Linked DNA regions of Homo sapiens: region 1 is linked to region 2. Evidence: fine-mapped expression QTL. A gene starts in region 2. The other region holds a variant in brackets. All regions are shown on one strand. Distances are between the middles of the regions.

Region 1 (12,051 bases), 36 kb after region 2:
GTCAGAGTGGCTAAGGGCACAGGCTAGAGTGCCTGACACATAGTGGTTCAAACCCCTGATCTCATTTATCAGGAGTAACCTTGAACAATTAACTAATTCTGTAGTTTCCTCATTTGGAAACTGATTGTAATGAGAGTCCCTGCAGCTCATTTGCTTGTAATAGTGTTAAATGAAGCAATCAATGTAATAAAGCACCCAGCACGTGGCCTGGCACAAAGTAAGAGCTCAATAAATATTCAAGATTTTTTTTTTTTTAATCCTAGCCACTAGACCACTAGGGGCATGATTGTTATTATTACAAATTTTTTTCTTTTTGTTTTTGTTTTTTTGAGACAGAGTCTCACTCTGTCACCAGGCTAGAGTGCAGTGGCGTGATCTGGGCTCACTGCAACCTCCACCTCCCAGGTTCAAGCAATTCTCCTGCCTCAGCCTCCCGAGTAGCTGGGACTACAGGCATGCGCCACCACGCCCAGCTACTTTTTGTGTTTTTTAGTAGAGACGGGGTTTCACCATGTTGGCCAGGATGATCTCCATCTCTTGACCTCGTGATCCACCCGCCTCAGCCTCCCAAAGTGCTGGGATTACAGGCGTGAGCCACCGCGCCCGGCCTATTATTATAATTAATACACACAAGATCAAGCAGAGACGGTTGTTCTCCCTAAGACTTTGTCAATCTCTTTTGCCACTGGGATAGGGCCATATGATTTGTTCTGGCCAAAAAACTATAGGTGGAAGTGCCATATGCTGCCTCTATCTGGAACTTCCCCTGCTACAGGGACCTTGGAGGATGCATGCTCCACGAGAAGTAGCTACAAGATGGAGATAGGTTGCCTGTCACATATACAATTTCAATGAATAAGAAGTAAATCTTGGCCAGGTGCGGTGGCTCACGCCTGTAATCCCAGCACTTTGAGAGGCTGAGGTGGGCGGATCACGAGGTTAGGAGTTGAGCCTGGCCAACACGGTGAAACCCCGTCTCTACTAAAAATACAAAAATTAGCCGGTCGTGGTGACGCATGCCTATAATCCCACCTACTCAGGAGGCTGAGGCAGAAGAATCGCTCGAACCCGGGAGGTGGAGGTTGCAGCGAGCTGAGATTGTGCCATTACACTCCAGCCTGAGCAACAGAGCGAGACTCTCTCTAAAAAAAAAAAAAAAAAAAAAAAAGGTAAATCTTTTTGTCTCCAGCCACAGACATATCAAGGTTTGTATTTTACTGCAGCAGAATCTAACATATCCTGGACTAATGTAAGTAGCATGTCCATATAAGGTGTGAATGATAGTTTGACAATTATTCCACAGACTAAATATACAAGTTTTTATGGTTGTTTTTCTTTTTTCTTTTTCTTTTTCTTTTTTCCTTTTTTTTTTTTTTTGAGTCGGGGTCTCACTTTATAGTCCAGGCTGTAGTGCAGTGGTGCAATCACAGCTCACTGCAGCCTCAACCTCCTGGGCTCAAATGATCCTCTCACCTCAGCCTCACGAGTAGCTGGGACTATAGGCGAGTGCCACCACACCTGGTTAATTTAAAAAAATAATAAATTGGGGGACCAGACGCAATGGCTTGCACCAGTAATTTCAGCACTTTGGGAGGCCGAGGCGGGCGGATCACTTGAGGTCAGGAGTTTGAGACCAGCCTGGCTAACATCGCAAAAACCCACCTCTACTAAAAATACAAAATTAGCTGGGCATTGTGGTGGGTGCCTGTAATCCCAGCTACTTGGAAGGTTAAGGCAGGAGAATCACTTGAGGAAGCAGAGGTTGCAGTGAGCTGAGACCCTGCGCCACTGCATGCCAGCCTGGGTGACAGAGCAAGACTCCATCTCAAAAAAATAAAATAAAATAAAATAAATAAATAAGGCCGGGCTTGGTGGCTCACACCTGTAATCACTGCACTTTGGAAGGCCGAGGTGGATGGATCACTTGAGGTCAGGAGTTCGAGACCACCCTGGCCAACATGGTGAAACTCCATCTCTAATAAAAATACAAAATTAGCTGGGAGTGGTGGCGCTTGCCTGTAGTCCCAGCTACTTGGGAGGCTGAAGCAGGAGAATCACTTGAACCCAGGAGGTGGAGGTTGCAGTGAGCCAAGATTGTGCCACTGCACTCCAGCCTGGGCAATGAAAGCAAAACTCCATCGCAAAAAATGTAAATAAATAAACAAACTTTTTGTAGAGATGGGGTCTTACTATGTTGCCTAGGCTGATCTTGAACTCCTGGGCTCAAATGATCCTCCCACCTCAGCCTCCCAAAGTGCTGGGATTACAGATGTGAGCCACCATGCCCAGTCTAAGTATACTATTGATTGTATGTTTATTGATAGTTTATCGATAGTTTATTCTGTGTTTCCTGATACTCATTCAACACATATTTACTGAGCACTGACTACATATCTGACACTGTACTGTCAAACAGCAAGGAAAACTAGACAGGGTTTTTGTTGTTGTTGTTGTTGTTTGTTTTTTCGAGACAGAATCTCCCTCTCTAGCCTAGACTGGAGTGCAGTGGTTCGATTCACCTCACTGCAACCTCCACCTCCTGAGTTCAAGCAATTCTCCTGCCTCAGTCCCCTGAGTAGCTGAGACTACAGGGGCGTGCCACCGTGCCTGACTAATTTTTATACTTTTAGTAGAGATGGGATTTCACCATGTTGGCCAGGCTGGTCTCGAACTCCTAATCTCAAGTGATCCACCTGCCTCGGCCTTCCAAAGTGCTGGGATTACTAATGTGAGCCATTGCGCCTGGCCAATACGGGGTTCTTGCATTCAAGAAGGAATAGTCTAGTGGGGGAGACAGGCATTAATGAAATAATGACAAGTGGATGTATCACTGGCATAAAAACGGACACATAGACCGACAGAACACAATAGATAACTCAGATACAAAACCGCAAATTTACAGTCAACTCATTTTTGACAGAGGCACCAAGAAGATACGTTGGGGAAAGGACAGCCTCTTTAATAAATGGTGATGGGAAAACTGCATAGGATAACCCTATGCAGAAGAATGAAGCTAGACCCCTATCTCTCACCATATATAAGAATCAAATCAAAATGGATTAAAGACTTAAATCTAAGACCTGAAACTATGCAACTACTAGAAGAAAACATTGGGAAATGCTTCAGGACATTGGTCTGGGCAAAGACTTTTTGGGTAAGACCTCAAAAGCACAGGCAACAAAAACAAAAATAGACAAATGGGATTACATCAAGCTAAAAAGCTTCTGCACAGCAAAGGAAACAATCAACAAAATGAAAAGAGAGTTTACAGAATGGGAGAAAATATTTAATAGCCAAAATATGTAAGGAACTCAAACAACCAAATAGCAAAAAAAAGGATAATCTGATTTTAAAATGAACAAAAGATCTGAATAGACGTTTCTCAAAAAGAAGACAAATGGCTTACAAGTATATGTGAAAAAATGCTCAACATCATTAATCATCAGACAAATGCAAATCAAAACCAAACTGAGATATTATCTCATTCCAGTTAAAATGGCTATAACCAAAAAGACAAAAAATAATGGATGCTGATGAGGATGTGGAAAAAGGGAAATGCTTGTGCACTGTTGGTGGGATTGTAAATTAATACAACCACTATGCAGAACAGTATGGCAGTTCCTCAAAAAACTAAAAATAGAACTACCATATCATGTAGCAATCCCACTGCTGGGTATATATCCAAAAGAAAGGAAATCACAGTATGGAAGAATTATCTGCACTCCCATGTTTATTGCAGCACCATTTACAATAGCCAAGATGTGGAATCAGCCTGAGTGTCCACCAATGGATAAATAGTTAAAGAAAATATGGTACATATATAATGAAATATTATTCAGCCATACATAAGAGTAAAATCCTGTAAAATGCAGCAACATGGATGGAACTGGAGGTTATTATGTTAAGTGAAATGAGCCAGGCACAGTATGACAAATACCACATGATCTCACTCATATGTGGGAGCTTAAAAAGTGGATCTCATAGAGGTAGAGAGTTGATTGGTGGTTACCAGAGGCTGGCAAGAGAAGTGGGGCAGGGGACAAGGAAGAGAGATTGGTGAATGGGTACAAAAGTACAATTAGAAAGAACAAGATCTTATGTTTGATAGTACAGTAGGGTGACTATAGTTAACAGCAATATATTATATATTTCAAAATAGCTAGAAGAGAAGAATTGGAATGTTTCCAACATAATAAATGTTTGAGGAGATGGATACCCCAATCACTCTGATTTGATCATTACACATTGTATGTATGTATAAAAATATCACATGCACCCCCAAAATATGTACAACTATTATGTATTAATTTTTTGAAAAGTGTTACTGGTGTCATGCTCTAAAGAAAAGAGGGAACCAGGGTGCTATGAGAGCCTGTAGCTGAGAAATGAGATCTACCACCAGCTGGATGATCTTTGGTAACTTAATAGCCTCATTTTTTTCTATATAAGTACATTGGCTTAGATGATCATAAAGCTCCCTTCCAGCTCTAATATTCTATATTTCTTTGTGAAGTCCTTTCTCTTTATGTGTGTAAGCAGTTTTTTAATGGAAAAAAACAATTTAGCAGGAACATTGGCTAGCTGATACGGCAATGTGACTTCTTTTCATACTGCTAATGTGAATTCAATAGTCATGGGTAGCCTCCTTCAATGTTTTTGCTGAAACTTTGAAATATTGCTTACTAATCATCTTCAGAGGAACTTTGTGAGCTATGAGTAAGCAAGTTTCATTGAATAAGAAAAAGGCAGCTTACATTCATTTAGCAAAGATGGCCCTCTCTGTGGTGGCATTTGAAAAGAATGCTAAGAAAGCTGGTAATGGGATAACATCTCCTTCTAACTACCTGAAATCCCATGGTATTCATAACTCTTCAGAAAACTATTGAATGACAATGAATGTGTTTACTTGGAAACAATACCACTTTTTTTTTCCTGTCTAACACTTTTTTTTTTTTTTTTTTTTTGAGATGGAGTCTCGCTCTGTCGCCCAGGCTGGACTGCAGTGGCGCGATCTCGGCTCACTGCAAGCTCTGCCTCCCAGGTTCACGCCATTCTCCTGCCTCAGCCTCCCGAGTAGCTGGGACTACAGGCGGCCGCCACCACGCCCGGCTAATTTTTTTGGATTTTTAGTAGAGACGGGGTTTCACCGTGTTAGCCAGGATGGTCTCGATCTTCTGACTTCGTGATCCACCCGCCTTGGCCTCCCAAAGTGCTGGGATTACAGGCGTGAGCCACCACGCCCGGCCATTCCTATCTAATACTTGAGTGTGAATTTCTTTTTTTCTTTTCTTTTCTTTTCTTTTTTTTGAGACAGTTTTGCTCATGTTGAAGTCACTGGACGCTAAGGAAGGAGTTCAGAAAGACCTGGAGTTTGAGGGACTTGGCCAGAGAATGCAGACAGGTTGGGGTCCAGAAATAGGGATGCCCTAGGAAGACCCTGGCTGCCAGGCCAAGGGGACCCAAAATCAAAGATCAAGCCGGACACAGTGTCATAGAACTCAGGAGTTTGAGACCAGCCTGGGCAACATGGTAAAAACCCGTCTCTATAAAAAATACAAAAATTAACCAGGTGTGTGTGGCTCGTGCTTGTGGTCCCAGCTACTTGGGAGGCTGAGGTAGGAGGATTGCTGGAGCCCAGGAAGTCAAACTGCAGTGAGCTGTGATTGAGCCACTGCACTCCAGCCTGGGTGACAGAACAAGACCTGTTTCAAAGAAAAATTTTTTTTTAATTTAAAGAAAAGTCAAGGAAAAATAACTTTACTGCACAGTGTTTTCAGGGGATAACAATGAGTGCCTGACATGTTCATTACTAAATATGTTCACTACCTATTATGAAGCACTATACCATGCAACAATGGTCTTGCATACTCTAAAGAAAGAAGCATAGTCTAAGTACTTCAAACAAGAGAAGAAAGGAGTGTGAATTTTTTTGAATGACTGAAGGTCTTTGCTACCAGATCCATAACATCTGTGTACCTCAGATAGCTGTTAAAGACAAAAAGAACAAGAAAAAATTAGCATGAACATGAATTCATGTGACATTGATTCCCACGTTGATGCCAGCGAAAAAGTCAATACATAACAGCAAAATAACTTTAAAAAAATGACATGACTAAGCAAAGCTGGTATTAATAAGTCAGTTCTTCTTTTTGTAAAGGACTCGAAACTTGCTAACTTAATAG[T/G]AGGAGTTTTCTCATGCCCATAGCACCATTTTCACATCCCGCATTTTGCCAGATTGGCATTTCCTTCCTTATTGTTAAATATTGTCAGTATTTTGAAAGGAGAAAAGAAGTCCATTCGAATGTGTGTAGAATATTCTCAACAATTCTGATAGAACAAGTAGAATTTAAATCAGAAACAATTACATTTTTTTTAATTGAAAGGGCAAGGAACTTTGGTTAATGTTCTGTGTTCTTGGAGGAAAATGTCATATTTATATTAAAAGTAAATATATTTTCTGCATTCATTCAAGTGAAATAATTCACTTTATTTATTTATTTATTTATTTATTTATTTACAGACAGAGTTTCGCTCTTCTTGCCCATACTGGAGTGCAATGGTGCAATCTCAGCTCACTGCAACCTCCACCTCCCAGGTTCAAGCAATTCTCCCACCTCAGCCTCCCAAGCAGCTGGGATTACAGGTGCCCACCATCACGCCTGGCTAACTTTTTGTATTTTTAGTAGAGATGGGGTTTCACTATGTTGGCCAGGCTAGTCCCGAACTCCTGATCTCAGGTCATCCATCCGCCTCAGCCTCCCAAAGTGCTAGGATTACAGGCATGAGCCACCACGCCCGGCCAATTCACTTTATTTCATGTTATTCTTTTCTTTTGCTGGTCAATGAAATTATTATTTTTTTAACTATTCTTATTTCAATAGTTTTTGGGGAACAGGTGGATTTTGGTTACATGGATGAGTTCTCTAGTGGTAATCTCTGAGATTTTGGTGCACCCGTCACCCGAGGAGTGTACACTGTACTCAATGTGTAGCCCCCAAAGTCCATTGTATCATTCTTATGCCTTTGCATCCTCATAGCTTAGCTCCCATATTTCATATTATTCTTGAGTTGTCTCAAATATGATGTACACATATAGTTTGTAAGGAATTCTAAGAAAAGAGAAAAAAATTCTTCACAATTCTATCCATATCTTGTATTACAGAAGGAAATTTGAGGATCCAGTGGTTTTCAAATCTTTTTCTTTTTTAACCAGTGGAACATATTCCTACAACAGACTGTCACATGAAATGTCAACATATAAAACACAGGAAAGCTACCGTAGTGGGGAAGGTAACTGAGACTGTGCCTCGCATCTGGCCCTCCAAAGGCATCATAGAACTGTTTCAAAAATCGCTGATCTATCCCAAGCTGTTGATGCTGCTCAAAAAGGAAAACCAGGTTGCCTAACTTAGGTTAACTGGCTGGTCCCAAAACATAAAGTTGGTTTAAAAGAGAGTCTGGGGCCCAGCACGGTGGCTCACACCTATAATCCCAACACTTTGGGAGGCCAAGGTGGATGATCACTTGCGGTCAGGAATTCGAGACTAGCCTGGCCAAGATGGTGAAACTCATCTCTACTAAAAATACAAAAATTAGCAGGGCATGGTGGCAGGTACCTGTAATCCCAGCTATTCAGGAGGCTGAGGCAGGAGAATCTCTTGTACCTGGTAGGTGAAGGTTGCAGTGAGCTGGGATCATGCCACTGCATTCCAACCTGGCCGACAAAGCAAGACTCCATCTCAAAAAAAAAAAAAGAAAAAGAGAGAGAGAGAGAACCGGGTACTAGAACCTTGGTCTTTGATTCTCAACCCAGTACTCATTAAAAAAAAATTTTTTTTTTTGAGACAGAGTCTCAGTCTGTCACCCAGGCTGCAGTGCAGTGGCACACTCTTGGCTCACTGCAACCTCTGCCTTCCGGGTTCAAGCTATTCTCTTACCTCAGCCTCTGAAGTAGCTGATACTACAGGCATGCACCACCATGCCTGGATAATTTTTGTAGTTTTAGTAGAGATGGGGTTTTACCATGTTGCCCAGGCTGGTCTCAAACTCTTGACCTCAAGTGATCCGTTCGCCTTGGCCTCCCAAAGTGCTGGGATTACAGGTGTCAGCCACCATGCCTGGCCCCAGCATTCATTTTTAAATAAACTTTCTTTGCATCACTATTTTATCACACAGAGTTCAACATATCATAGGATCGTGAAAGAATATATTATGCTGACTCAGTCAATATCAAATAGAGATAATCACTTATATATATATATTTTTTTTAATGATTTTTAAAAAAATTTTTATAGAGATGGGGTTTTGCCATATTGCCCAGGCTGGTCTTGAATTCCTGGGGTCAAGCGATCTGCATGTCTTGGTCTCCCAACGTGCTTGGAATTATAGGTGTGAGCCATCTGGCCTAGCCAAGGTTATCATTATAATACACATTAAAAAATTTATTAAAATAATGTAATGCTGGGCATAGTGGCTCATGCCTGTAATCCTAACACTTTGGGAGGCTTAGGCAGGTGGATCTCTCGAGGTCACGAGTTCGAGACCAGCCTGACCAACATGGTGAAAACCCATCTCTACTAAAAATGCAAAATTAGCTGGGTGTGGTGGTGCACACCTGTAATCCTAGCTATTTGGGAGGCTGAGGCAGGAGAATCACTTGAACTCGGGAGGCAGGAGGTGGAGGTTGCAGGGAGCCAAGATTGTGCCATTGCACTCTAGTCTGGGCAACAAAGAGCAAAATTACGTCTCAAAATACATAAATAAATAAATAAATAAATAAATGTAATAATATAAAGTATTTTAATTGTTTTTTTTTTTTTGAGACAGAGTTTTACTCTTGTTGCCCAGGCACGATTTCAGCTCACTGCAACCTCTGCCTCCCAGGTTCAAGTGATTCTCCTGCTTCAGCCTCCCAAGTAGCTGGGATTACGCTTGGCTAATTTTTGTTATTTTTAGTAGGGATGGGGTTTCCCTATGTTGGTCAGGCTGGTCTTGAACTCCTGAACTCAGGTGATCCACCTGCCTCGGCCTCCCGAAGTGCTGGAATTACAGGCATGAGGCATGAGCCACTGCGCCCAGCCTATTTCAATATATTTTAAGTAAAATTTTATGGTAATACTTGGCCTTAAAATATGTTTTAGTCCTTGGCAAAGCAATGTGGATTCATTTTTATTTGAAAGGTATATTTTGAGTGACACATTGTGCTATGCTGAAATGAGCCAAACAGGTCCAGCAGCTGCTGTACACTGTGCCTATATGCTTATCCTCAGTCTTTGCATGACTGGTTCCTTCTTACCTCCCACACTTCAGGCTTCAGCTGGAATGTCACCTTCTTTGAGCCCTTTCCTGGCCCTTCTATCTAAAACAGCCTCTTCTTCCTAGTTACACTTTATCACCTTACCCTTCCTCTCCTCCAGAGAATTTATTGCTAACTGTATATATCTTACTTACCTACTTGTTTACATGTTGAAAGCTTCAAGTTGTGCCTCTTTTGGGACAAAGCCCCAGGAGAAAGCATGCCTGGGCTCAATGGCCAGGACTCAGTAAATATTTATTTATTTATTTATTTTTATTTATATATATTTTTAAGATGGAGTTTCACTCTTCTTGCCCAGGTTGGAGTGCAATGGTATGATCTCGCCTCACCGCAACCTCCACCTTCCAGGTTCAAGCGATTCTCCGGCCTCAGCCTCCCGGGTAGCTGAGGTTACAGGCATGCGCCACCGCACCTGGCTAATTTTATATTTTTAGTAGAGACGGAGCATCTCCATGTTGGTCAGGCTGGTCTTAAACTCCTGACCTCAGGTGATCCACCTGCCTTGGCCTCCCAAAGTGCTGGGATTACAGGCATGAGCCACCATGCCCAGCCTTATTTATTTATTTTTGAGATGGAGTCTGCTCTGTCACCCAGGCTGGAGTACAGTGGTGCAATCTTGGCTCACTGCAACTTCTGCTTCCCGGGGTTCAAGTGATTCCCCTGCCTCAGCCTCCCCAGTAGCTGAGATTACAGGCGTCCGCCACCATCCCTAGCTAATTTTTGTATTTTTAGTAAAGACAGGGATTTGCCATGTTGGCCAGGCTGGTCTCAAATTCCTGACCCAGGTGATCTGCCCACCTTGGCCTCCCAAAGTGCTGGGATTACAGGCATAAGCCACCGCACCCGGCTAATTTTTGTATGTTTAGTAGAGACAGGGTTTTGCCATGTTGGCCAGGCTAGTCTTGAATTCCTGACCTCAAGTGACCCACCTGCTTTGGCCTCCCAAAGTGCTGGGATGAATATTTATTGAATGAATGAATGATCAAACATGCATAGTGCCCAAGGGCACACAGCTGTACATGATAAACTTATAATTTAATAGGAGTGTGAATACAGGTTGTGCTTGGAATGGTTGTGGATAGACAGGGGTTCTCCAGCCCTGGAGAGGCAGTTTGTGGGAACAGAAGACTAATAACTGTCCCCTGTATGAATACTTCAGCCTCACTTCTTTCCTTAGCTAGTACTTAACCTCACTTTCCTCAGCTGTAAGTGAGAGCAATAACACCAACTTTGGTGTCCATTAATGGAAGTCTCTTTTCTCCATGCCTGCCAATGAGGCTTACAGGAGGTGCGCTGACTCTACAGGAGCACCTCATTGTGTGTATTTAGGGGATGGCAGGGAAGACTGGAATCACTCATCTTGAGCCAATGGTTACCGTTTCATTAAACGGATTGAGACCCTAATGGGACTGTTGGGAGGTTAGCTAGAGAGGGCCCACCAGAGGTCTATTTGCATGAAAGATCAGGAGCCTTCTAAGAAGGTTCTTATTCTAAGGAATCACTTAGTTACTGTAGGACAAAGCCAATTCTGAATGTTGCATGTTGCTACTCGCTCAGATTTGAAGAGTTTATGTATCATGTTGAAACCAGAACTAAGTTTTTTTTTTTCTCTTTTTTTTTTTTTTTTTTTTGGAGACATCTTACTCTGTCTCCCAGGCTCGAGTGCAGTGGCTCGATCTCAGCTCACTGCAACCTCCCCCTCCCGGTTCAAGCAATTCTACAGCCCCCCAGGTAGCTGGGACTACAGCCACGTGCCACCACGCCCGGCTAATTATTGTATCTTTAGAAGACAAGTTTTCACCATGTTGGCCAGGCTGGCCTCAAACTCCTGACCTGAAGTGATCTGCCCGCCTCAGCCTCCCAAAGTGCTGGGATTACAGGCATGAGCCACTGCACCCGGCCGAGTAAGTTCTTTTGACTTGACACAGAAGTTTTTATGAGACGTGATGGGGAAAGGACTACCCTGCACGGCTTGAACCTTTCTGTGTGTTGGCACATCGGAGAGTGCACCTGAATATCTCCCCATTGTAGGCTGAGAGAACACGCACGCATGGGCTTTGCATGGGGGTTAGGAGTCTTACAGTTTTATGCATAGAAAACAGAGCCTGAGAAATGCTATGTATTATTGTTAATAAATTTCTCCCTTTTCAGTTCATCTTCTTCCCAGTATCTCCCCAACAGAATGTTTTACAGCTGTTGAAAAGAACGAAGTAACTCTACATGTATTGATACAGAATATTTGCCAAGATATGTTATTTTTAAGTGTAAAAAGATACAGAACAGTGTAAATATTATGCTGCTATTTATATTAAAGGAAATATGCATGCATCTGTATATGCATATAATACATTTAGAAAGAAACACAAGACCATTAATAGTAATTAGTTTGGCCAGGCGCAGCGGCTCACGCCTGTAATCCCAGCACTTTGGGAGGCCAAGGAGGGTGGATCACCTGAGGTTGGGATTTCGAGGCCAGCCTGACCAACATGGAGAAACCTCGTTTCTACTAAAAAATACAAAATTAGCCGGGTGTCGTGGTGCATGCCTGTAATCCCAGCTACTTGGGAGGCTGAGGCAGGAGAATCGCTTGAACCTGGGAGGTGGAGGTTGCGGTGAGCCGAGATCGCACCATTGCACTCCAGCCTGGGCAATAAGAGCAAAAGTCTATCTCAAAAAAAAAAAAAAAAGTGATTAGTTCTGAGAAGGAGATTCTGGGTGAGGAAGTTAGGGTTGTA
Region 2 (12,051 bases):
AGGCTGGTCTTGAACTCCCGACCTCAGGCGATCCACCTGCCTCGGCCTCCCAAAGTGCTGGGATTACAGGCATGAGACACCGTGCCTGGCCTTTTTGTACGCCAGGCATGGTGGCTCATGCCTGTAATCCCAGCACTTTGGGAGGCCGAGGCGGGCGGATCGCCTGAAGTCAAGAGTTCGAGACCAGCCTGGCCAACGTGGTGAAACCCCGTCTCTACTAAAAGTACAAAAAAATTGGCTGGGTGCACAGTGGCTCACACTTGTAATTCCAACACTTTGGGAGGCCGAGGTGGGTGGATCACCTGAGGTCAGGTGTTTGAGATCAGCCTGGCCAACATGGTAAAACCCTGTCTCTACTAAAAATACAAAAATTAGCTGGGCATGGTGGCAGGCGCCTGTGATCCCAGCTAGCTACTAGGGAGGCTGAGGCAGGAGAATCGCTTGAACCTGGGAGGCGGAGGATGCAGTGAGCCGAGATCACACTATTGCACTCCAGCCTGGGTGACAACAGTGAAACTCTATCTCAAAAAAAAAAAAAAAATTAGCTGTGGGTGGTGGTGGGCACCTGTAATCCCACCTACTTGGGAGGCCGAGGCAGGAGAATCGCTTGAACCCAGGAGGCAGAGGTTGCAGTGAGCCGAGATGGTGCCATTGCACTACGGCCTGGGCAACAGAACAAAAAAATTTATATTTAAAAATTACCCAGGCCTGGTGGCACATGTCTATAGTCCCAGCTACTTGGGAAGCTGAGGCAGGAGGATCCCTTGACCCCAGGAATTTGAAGCTTCAGTGAGCTATAATCGCACCACTGCACTCCAACCTAGGTGAGAGAAAAATACCCTGTCTTAAAAAAAAAAGATGACAGCCAAGGGAAGGCAGAATAAAGAAAGGGGACAGGAAGAAGCAGCCCAAGCTTCTACCATTTACATATGGCAAGAAGAATATGTGGGTTTCCAAGGGTTAAACACCGGAAGGGGCTGGGCTTGAGCTGTCTTTCCACACCCCAATCAAGAAGGCTGACCAGCAGGCAAGGAGTCCCCAGGGATAAGAGGCTGTGAGGCACATGCTAGAAAATGGGAGCTGAAGTAGAAAGAAGAAGGGTTGCCAGATTTAGCAAACAAAATATTGGGCATCTTGCATTTTACCTGGCAACCCTAAGTGGAGGTGGAAGAGGTTAAGCTGGAACCAAAGCACCCTCTATTTAAAATTTTTATTTACAAAATTTTTTTTTGAGACAGGGTCTTGCTCTGTTGCCCAGGTTGGTCTCGAACTCTTGGGCTCAAGTGATCCTTCCTCCTCAGCCTCCCAAAACTTTGGGATTACAGGCGTGAGCCACTGAGCCCAGCCCAAAGCACTCTCTTAAAATAAAATGTCTTGTGAAGAGGCCCCAAGGGAACAATTTATAGAAACAGAAAAAGGACATTTGACATGGTGTGATTGAAGGTAGTGACTGAAGAAAAATAAAAACCAATTCACATTTATACCTCATCCCATGAAGACCGCTTGATAAAATGGATGCATGAAGAAGACAACTAAAAGAATACATGAATGGGGAGATGGCAGGGTGTTTCCCTTTGCAGATGCTGCTATTAATAAAATATCAATGAATTGGTCCAATACATGCAGATAACACTGAGTTTGAGAAGGAAAACAGAGCAGTCTAATACAAGACTGTAGGTAAAACCAGTGCAGGGGCAGTTTGGATCTTTGCCCTGTGGCTTTTAGGGGAAACTTTTTGCAATTTCCCAGATGGACTAAGGAGAAGCAACTGATATTAACATCCTGAAAACACCTCCTTTTTACGAAGTCATCCAAACCAGTCTGAGGCTAAGTAGAGAGCAATGATGAAGGGTTATTTCCTTCCTAACAGCATGTGATCATCCATGTTGACTGTCAAGTTCAGACTACAGCTGATGGCCCTTAAAAAGCATTTTCAGGTAGAGCACAGTGGCTCACGCCTGTAATCCTTCCCTTTGGGAGGCTGAGGCTGGTGGATCACCTGAAGTCAGGAGTTTGAGACCAGCCTGGCCAATATGTGGAAATCCTGTCTCCACTAAAAATACAGAAGTTAACTGGGCATTGTGGTGCACGCCTGTAACCCCAGCTACTTGGGAGGCTGAGGCAGGAGAATCACTTGAACCTGGGAGGCAGAGGTTGCAGTGAGCTGAGATTGAGCTACTGAACCCCAGCCTGGGTGACAGAGCCAGACTCCATCTCAAAAAAAAAAAAAAAAGAAAGAAAAAACCATTTTCATAGTCAATGCTGTCTTTAAGCTGGGTTTCAGACAGTGTATGTGAAATGGAAGGCTGGCAAGAATAGGATATTTGCCTGTTATTAAGGGATGGTCTGATACTTACAATTACCGTTCTCCAATTATAGACAGGCTCCTCTGTAGGCAACACTCCATAGCAGCTGGAATTTCCTTTGACATGAGGACGATGGTTGATTAAAGCCAGGTAATTTCTGTAATCTAATTTTAAATCAGAGAAAGAAACTAAAAAAGTCAAAGTTTGTATTTGTGCATATAAATATGTGTGTATATATATGCACTTATAGATGCAATTGCTCTCATCTATGTTTTCTTGCCACTTTGCACTTCTCCTGTGGTGTTTATCTCATTATGCTGCTATTATGGATACTGTTATACATATCCCATTTGGAGAACATGCTCCTTGCAGGCTGAAACCGCATGATTTCTTTCTTTCTTTCTTTCTTTCTTTCTTTCTTTCTTTCTTTCTTTCTTTTTTCTTTCTTTCTTTCTTTCTTTTTCTTTCTTTCTTTCTTTCTTTCCTTCCTTCTTTCTTTCTTTTTCTTTCTTTCTTTCTTTCCTTCTTTCTTTCTTTCTTTCTTTCTTTCTTTCTTTCTTTCTTTCTTTCTTTTTCTTTCTTTCTTTCTTTTCTTTCTTTTTTTTTTTTAAGACAGGGTCTTGCTCTGTTACCCAGGCTGGAGTGCGGCCACGTTATTTCGGTTCACTGCAGCCTGTGCCTCCTGGCCTCAAGTGATCCTCCCACCTCAGCCTCCCAAGTAGCTGGGACTCCAGGCACACGCCACCACACTTGGCTAATTTTTGTATTTTTTGTAGAGACAGGGTTTTGCCATGTTGCCCAGGCTGGTCTTGAACTCCTGGGCTCAAGTGATCCACCCACCTTGGCTTCCCAAAGTGCTGGAATCACAGGTGTGAGCCACCATGCCCTGCCCACATGATTTCTCTTATCTTGGAACACCCTGTAATACCCTATATAAACTTAATACATAACATATTTGCATTCTATTTAGACTATATAGTCCATAGGATAATGGGTGAGGAAGGATAAAAATACTTATTCTTCCAAGTAGAATATATCTTGTTGTGTGGGTGGAAGGTCTATAAGATTCATTGGAACAATTTAAAAGCCTTTCGTGAATAGTTAAAATGAACTGTCTATTAGATAAATAAATGTCAACCAGATATTTCTAATAGCAGATAATTATATATCTTTGTATTTCTGTGTGGAATGTCATCCTCTATATTCTCTGCATTTTTATATGTGAGACTTTAGTTTTATTTAGGCTAGATACTCCTGGACATATTTTGCCTTTGCTAGAATTAATCCTGGATGCTTCAGGTAAAAATGATCTCGTTTTTGAGTCCAGGAGTTCCAGACCAGCCTGGGCAACATAGTGAGACCCTGTCTCTACAAAAAAATAAACAAATAAAAATTAAATTAAAGATAAAAAAGGTCACCGGGCACAGTGGCTCATGCCTGTAATCCCAGCGCTTTGGGAGGCCGAGATGGGCGGATCACGAGGTCAGGAGATCGAGAACATCCTGGCTAACACGGTGAAACCCCGTCTCTACTAAAAATACAAAAAATTAGATGGGCATGGTGGCGGGCGCCTGTAGTCCCAGCTACTCGGGAGGCTGAGGCAGGAGAATGGCGTGAACCCGGGAGGAGGAGCTTGCAGTGAGCCGAGATCGCGCCACTGCACGCCAGCCTGGGCGACAGAGTGAGACTTCGTCTCAAAAAAAAAAAAAAAAGAAAAAAGAAAAAAGAAAAAAAAGGTCTTCTCTGTTCTGATCATTATCCTGGAATACAGTGGCGCCATCTCGGCTTACTAAAGCTTCTGCCTCTCAGGTTCAGCAATTCTTAAGCCTCAGCCCCCAGAGTAGCTGGGATTACAGTCGCGCCACCATGCCTAGCTAATTTTTGTATTTTTAGTAGAGACAGGGTTTCGCCATATTGGCCAGGCAGGTCTTGAATTCCTGGTCTTAAGTGATCTGCCCACCTTGGCCTCCCAAAGTGCTGGGATTACAGATGTGAGCCACAGCACCTGGTCAGCTGATCATTATTCTTATATGTGTATGTGACCAACAAGCCATTTGATGTACCAGCAGAAGAGGGTAAATGACTCATCTTTACCTGGCGAGTACTGAAGATCTCCAGTTGAATGTTGCCTCAGAACCTCAAAAGCATCTTCAAATGCTTGACCCAGCTTGTCTTGTTCAACACACGTCTGTTGGAACAATGATAGAATTCTGGAGTTTTCGAATTACCAATTAAACTTAATCTCCCTGATTTAAAATAGTATTTAGTCTAAAGGAGGGTTTCTCAATCTTGACACTATGGGCATTTGGTGTTGGCTGTCTCTGTTGTCAGGGGGGCTGCCTGTGCATTGTACGATGTTTAGCAGCTTCCCTGACCCCTACCCACTGGTTGCCAGTAGTACCTTCACAGTTGTGACCGTCAAAAATGTTTCCGACATCACCAAATGTACCCTGAGGCACAAAATCAATCACAGTTGAAACACACTCCATTATAGTATACTATTTAGAGAATGGTATTCATTCTATAGTACAGTATTTAACATTATTGCAAAATTTTAGCAAGGAGTTGTAGAGCAGAGGAGAGTGATTTAGAAAAAAAGGGCCAAGGAAATATCTTCAATGAAACAGAACCTATGAATTGTTGTTTAAAAATGAAATGCTCTTATGTCTCCAAGACCTAAAATTGAATTGCTTTGCAAACTATTTCATATCCTTATTAACATGATCGATATATTTTATTTTTAAAATGGAGGGAGAGTAAAGAAAAAAGTTTTTTAATTATTATGCTGTAGAGCTCCTCTGTGGACAGAGTAAAGAAAATATTAAAATGTCAGCTTACCATATTTCATTAATAAATTGACAATTCTGTTCCTTAGCAATTGTTGCTTGAAGAAAATAAAATAAAATAAGTTGACAATCCTGAAAAAGTTTAATATTTAAAAAGCAAAATTAAATGCAGTCTCTAATTTGATTCTGAATAAGATCTTGCTCAAAAATATTTTCTGAAAATACCTTACATAAACCAAGAGTACCTCCTGAATTCTCTTTGATGAGTACAAATTTTTTTCTACGAAATTTTCTACAAACATTTCTTTTTGCTTTTCCATGATTACAAAATGCTTTAAATATTAAAATAGCTATATATTTAATTATCTGAGCTGCTTGATTGATAAGAGAAAGTGGAAATAACTCAAAAGTATATATAAGTATTTCAAAATTATTTTAAATATTCTAAAATTCTGAAAATCAAAATCCTTTTTACCTTAGCATAGCTTTATAAAAATAGGGCTTTTTTAAAAAACCTTTCTTTGGTGTTATATTGCCTTCTGAGAATCTGGCAAAAGCCATCCTTTTCCTCCCATGAAAATTGGACTTATATTGCAAATAAAATTTAGCCTGTGAAGACTATCCTTGGACTTGCTTGAATCCTAGGCTAAGAAAACTCGTCTATAATTTTGTTATTTACTTTCTTATCTCTAAGTAATTCTGATTTTGCTTTAGAGAAACAATTATCACACCGACCCACAATTAAATGCTTTTAACTCTACGTTCTATAGACCAACACAGGGAACAAACAAACAAAAACCAACCCACATAATAAAAAGAACTGTGGTGGGTCCAAAATTGCTTATCATTCCATTAAGTAAACCCAGCAGTTCTTTTTATGCAAGTATTTATCTTCTTAGTATTTACCCGCAAACACAATGTGTTTACTCTTTAGTGTTTAACTTTGAATAATAAAATGAGATGATGTAATCTAATGCCAATATTATATATATCCATCATATATCAACATAACATATTAAATATCAAAATTCTGCTTGGCTCTTTGAAATCATTACATCATGTCAGTTAAAAGAAAATAGAAGAAAATCCAGAAATCACTCTTCGGCTCATGGTCTTTAGTGAATATTATCAGTAGCACATATTTTTTAAAAGCCATGTCAGTGATTTTCAATTAACTGCTTTGACTCAAAAGTGCAGAAGCACTGAATGTTGTATTTTGAATTAAATATTTAAAAATGAACATGTTCTCTTTGACTAAAATGCTCCACAAGACTATCGCAGCTATTACAAGTAGCAAATCTAAAAGGAAGAAAAAGCTTGAAAACATTATTGATTACTATGATTGCTTAATATTTCTTGCATCTGAACACGCAGACAGTGAGAAACACTCATTAGGCCAAAGGAAAAAATGAACAGTGATTAGAAGATATTTAGAAAAACATAAGCTGAGAACTTACCGGGAAGACACTTCAACCCTTTATAGAGATGTTTCATTAATATCAGAACGGTAAATTCAACGGTAGGCTATCATGAAAATAAAAAATTATTTTCCAGTGCAATGGCTCTGATGAAAAAAAATAGTAATATTTTTTTTAAAAATTAGAATTGTTAAGACATAACCATCAAGAACATACTGGCAGAGTTGCATTAAATAGCTGTTTTTAAGGAAGTTCTTCAAAAGGGGATTTTTTTTAAAAGATACAGTGCCTTCACAATTTCTATTTCATGATATGATTAGTAGACACCAGGGGCTATTATTTTGAAGAGGCACATAGTAGTTTGCATCCCATCAGCCAAAAAGCAAAAAAGCATTAGAACAAGCCCCATGAATCCCCCGCCCAACTTAGGTTGCAGCTCTTCAGATTGCATAGCCCCACCGGAAACTTCTAACCCAGGCAACTCAGGCCCACCCTTCTTTTTTTAATTCATATTACTTCTCTCCCAATTCTGGACTCTATACTCTCTTTCTTGCCTGGACTGTCAACAGCCTTCACTCTGGACTCTCCAAATCGGTCTTTCCTCCTAAACTACTTTACTTACACTGCCATTCACTGATCGCCTTAGAGAGCTTAAAGGCTTAGGGCCCTTGTCCTGACATTCAAGGCTCTTGAGCCTTAGCCTTATATCTTGCCACTCAGTTGAGTGGGGATAATAGAATCCATGCTCTTGCTTTCCTCCACACCTAAATTCAGTAGCGGCTCCAAAATGGTTAGGAAAACCTTATGGGGGGCCATGTGGTTGGACATACCTGAGGCTGCTGCATTCCTAATGCAGGTCCCGTTCTCTTACTTGGCTTCAAGGTTTATTTGGGGTGGCTCTGTTGGAAATTATGAGACGCTCCCTCCACCTAAAATACTTTCCTCCCAGTTCATCCCCCTGCAGATTCGCCCATTTTATGTTACCTGTCCATCAGTGTCCAAAGCAGCATCCACTTGTACACGGTGGAAATAACCTTCCTGTCCCCTGAAACACATGTCTGCCTCTCACTTGGCTAACCTGAAACCTGCCATTTTAATAGCTGTCACATTTTGGCCAGGGGGAAAACCGCCTAAGAATTTTTTGTAAACCTTGTGGGTGGGGAGAGTGAAGAGGGTCTGTGATTTCAAAGCTGCCAGTAACTTCAGTTTTGCATTGTTGGAGCCTAACCTCACCTTTGATAGGGGACTATTGTTTTGGACCAATTACTTTTTTGAGCCAATTTGTTATGCAAATGTTAACACACAGTCCTTCTTCTGATATGCAGATCTTATAATAACAGGTATAAAACGGTAATCACTAATGTTGATTTGTTTTTAATCTGTACTAGTCTACACCCTTTTCAAGCCACCTTATTTGGTTCATTCGTTCAACATATTACTGAGCTCTTCACTCTTCTGGGCACTGCCCCATGTCCAGGAGCTACAGCCCTGAACAAATCCTTATGAGAAGAAATGATTTTTAAAAAATAAACACATTGGTAAAGTATTAGATAAGAAGTGTCAAAAACAACAATACAAAAGAGAAAGATTATGAAGACAGTGTGCGAATAGCCAGGAAAAATCTCTGAGGAGGAAAGCGGTGTGAGCTGAAACCCAAGAAGAAGACTTAAGAGTGAGCAGGCGGGCAGGGTGTCTGGTGCCTATATCCCCGCTAAGCAGCTACACAGGAGGATGGCTTGAGGCCAGGAGTTTGAGACCAGCCTGGACAGCACAGTGAAACCCCCAAGAAAAATGGAGTGCCTCCCCACCCTGCCTCAGAAAAATGAAGGAGTGAGCAAAACAAAAAGCAGAGATGCAAATATTTGGAGGAGCACCTCCTGGCAGAGGAAGCAGCAGGTGCAAAGAGCCTGGGATGGAAATGAGTTTGGCATTCAAGACACAGAAAAAAAGCGGGAGGAGGAGAGGAGGCTGCAGGAAAATGCACCTGGGGGCTAAGAGGCAAAGTTGGAGAAGAAAGAGGCAGGATCCAGATCAACATACACATCAAGCCCTAAAATAATCACAAGTCATGTATGGCAGTCGTTATCTGTGTACCCCCATGTCACAGATGAGGAATCTAAACTGAAGTTCAAAGATGTTTTGTGATTTTCCCTAAGGTTCAACTTCTAGTGAGGTGGGCTGGGCCAGATCCAAATTTGGGTTAATTCCACTTCATGTGCACGCTCTCAGCCCTGGAGACCTGTGTGTGCAGTTGAGGCTGCCTTCGACCAGGTGCTCAGTCCCAACGGCAAACTCCACAGCACCCAGCCCATGCTTGTCACATATTAATACTACAGGTGTGGTGAGTATTTGAAATGAATGTAAACACAGTGAACTTTTTTTTTTTTTTGAGACAGAGTCTCCCTCAGTCCCCTAGGCTGGAGTGCAATCGCATGATCTTGGCTCACTGCAACTTCCACCTCCTGGGTTCAAGCGATTCTCCTGCCTCAGCCTGCCGAGTAACTGGGATTACAGGCCACCACCACATCCAGCTAATTTTTGTATTTTTAGTAGAGACGGGGTTTCACCATATTGGCCAGGCTGTAATCCCAGCTACTCAGGCTGGTTAATTTTTGTATTTTTAGTAGAGATGGGGTTTCACCATGTTGGCCAGGCTGGTCTTGAACTCCTGACCTCAGGTGATCCACCCGCCTTGGCCTCCCAAAGTGCTGGGATTACAGGCCTGAGCCACTACACCCAGCCTGAACTTTCTTTTTTTTTAATTTTTAATTTTTATTTTTATTTCCAAGATGGAGTCTCTGTCACCCAGGCTGGAGTTCAGTGACGTGATCTCGGCTCACTGCAACCTCTGCCTGCCGGGTTCAAGTGATTCTCCTGCCTCAGCCTCCTGAGTAGCTGGGATTACAGGCCCACGCCATCGCACAGGGTTAATTTTTGCATTTTTAGTAGAGATGGGGTTTCACCATGTTGGCCAGGCTGGTCTCAAACTCGTGACCTCAGGTGATATGCCTGCCTCGGCCTCCCAAATTGCTGGGATTACAGGCATGAACCACCACGCCTGGACTATTTTTTTTTTAATGTAAATAAATTAAAACCCTGATATTTCTAGGTGGGATCTCATCCAAGTACTAAACTGGCCCTACACGCCTTGGTGTCTAAAATCGGAAGAGGTCAGGCCTGTTCAAGGTGTTATGGCCATAAAAAAGTGATTTTTTTTTTTTTTTTTTTTGAGAGTGAGCCTTGCTCTATCGCCCAGGCTGGAGTGCAGTGGCACCATATCAGCTTAATGCAACCTCCACCTCCTGGGTTTAAGCAATTCTCATGCCTCAGCCTCCCAAGTAGCTGTGATTACAGGCGCCTGCCACCATGCCTGGCTAATTTTTCTATTTTTAGTAGAGATGGGGTTTCACCATGTTGGCCAGGCTGATCTCAAACTCCTTACTTAGCTCAAGTGATCTTCCAGCCTCGGCCTCCTAAAGTGCTACGATTACAGGCATGATTCACCGTGACCGGCCAACAAGTAAACTTTCTAAGCTAGCATTTCCCCAACTATTGTCTCTAGAGTTTGATTATGCAGGATATTAATAAATGAACCTGGCAAAAGTGTTGAGTGGAAGCTAGGGTTGCTGCCTAGAACTTCCTTAGTGAAGTCAATGAGTGTGTTGATTTTTTTTTTTTTTTTTTTTTTGAGGTAGGGTCTCACTCTGTCACTCAGGCTGGAGTGCAGTGGTGCAATCATAGCTCACTAAAGCCTCAACCTCTTAGGCTCAAGTGATCCTCCTGCCTCAACCTCCCAAGTAGCTGGGACTGCAGGCAGGCACCACCATGCCGAGCTAATTTTTACATTTTTTGTAGAGATGGGGTCTCACCATGTTGCCCAGGTTGGTCTCGAACTCCTGGGCTTAAGCCATCCTCCTGCCTCGGCCTCCCAAAGTACTGGGAATACAGGTGTGAGACACTGCATACGGCCTGTTGGAGATATATGTATATATATACAACCCTACGTTACAGATGCAAAAACAGAAATGCAGCTTTAGGGTTCTCTGTAGGGCTAAGATGTGAAGTTGTTTTGGCATCTTGAAAAGTTAATGCAATAGACTTTTAGCATTTTAGAAGTCAAAACTCCTATCTCTTGAGAATCTGATGAAAGCTGGCAGTTATTTTCCCAGGAAAATGCCATCAGCACACATTTTCAGGCAAACCCTCCCAGTAGGGCCAGTGAACTCCAATTTGGGAGCCCCTGCAGTATTTATTTAATATATGGACACCAATGTTTCCCTCAACTCCAGAAATGAGCTGAGTAACAAGCTAAGGGCTCTGAAGAGAGGATCCCTGATTGACAGATTCACTTTTGCAGAAGTTCATTGTCCTCAGTGGCAATGGAGATTATTTTAGAAAATCTTAAGCAACACATGTGCTGGCGTACAAATCATATGGTGACACGCTTCAGGTGGAAGACTGTGTTTTCTGAGAATAGGGAACTGCAGAACCCAAAAAGGGAGATCAAGTTCAAGCTCTTATCATTCCTCACAAATTCTTCTTCAATAATTCAGTTGTTGAAGTGACTAAAGAATTTGGTCTTAATCTTGGCAAGATCTTTGGAAACTCCAATAAGCAAATAATAAAGATTGTTAGCAGACTGGGGAGAAGGTGCTAGAAAACTCCTCATGTTTGGCTGGGTGCGGTGGCTCACACCTATAATCTCATTACTTTGGGTGGCTAAAGTGAGAGGATCGCTTGAGGCCAGGAGTTCAAGACCAGCCTGGTCAACATAGTGAGACCCCCATCTCAATTATTTTTTTAAAAAAAGAAAGGAAGCCTGGGCACGCTGGCTCATGCCTGTAATCAATCCCAGCACTTTGGGAGGCCAAGGCGGGAGTTCGAGACCAGCCTGACCAACATGGAGAAACCCCGTCTCTACTAAAAATACAAAATTGGTAGGGCGTGGTGGCGGGTGCCTGTAATCCCAGCTACTCAGGAGGCTGAGGCAGGAGAATTGCTTGAACCCAGGAGGTGGAGGTTGCGGTGAGCCTAGATCACGCCATTGCACTCCAGCCTGGGCTACAAGAGCGAGACTCCGTTTCAAAAAACAAAAACAAAAAGCAAAACAAAGAGCGAAACTCCATCTCAAAAAAAAAAAGGAAAAAGAAAAACAATTCCTCACATTTGAGTAGGAGGAGTCATAGAACCAGAGATTATGAGACAAATAGTTAACCCTCACCCTCATTTTAATAATAATTACTTGCAATAGATATTCTATGAAATTTACTGAGACTTGTTTCGTGGCCCAACATGGAGTCCATTTTGACTGAATTTGCACTTGGAAGAATGTATACTTTGCAGCTATAAAATGCAGTGGCTGATAAATATCAATTATATCTAGTTGGCTGATAATATTGTTCAAATCTTTTATATTTTGAGGGGCTTCTTTTGTCTTCATGGTCTATAAATTAGTGTAAGGGAAATCTCCAATTATAGTTGTGAGTGTGTCTATTTCTCTTCTTTAGTTCTGTCTATTTTTGCTTCACGTATTTTGAAATT

The links.
Region 1: its variant is fine-mapped to the expression of SPIC in blood mononuclear cells (TOPMed, PIP above 0.99).

Annotation. Positions count from the first base shown.
Region 1 is chr12:101,433,572-101,445,622 of GRCh38, reverse strand. No RefSeq gene overlaps it. Among named protein-coding and RNA genes, the nearest start is that of ARL1, 32 kb to the right of the region's middle. The variant T/G (reference allele first, on the strand shown) is at 6,183.
Region 2 is chr12:101,470,001-101,482,051 of GRCh38, reverse strand. It overlaps SPIC (Spi-C transcription factor), which reads right to left and starts at 6,716. Exons shown (of 6, transcript NM_152323.3): 1 at 6,550-6,716; 2 at 5,145-5,224; 3 at 4,401-4,494; 4 at 2,358-2,470. The coding sequence starts at 5,147. It also overlaps the pseudogene RNA5SP367. RefSeq lists an enhancer at 7,376-8,071.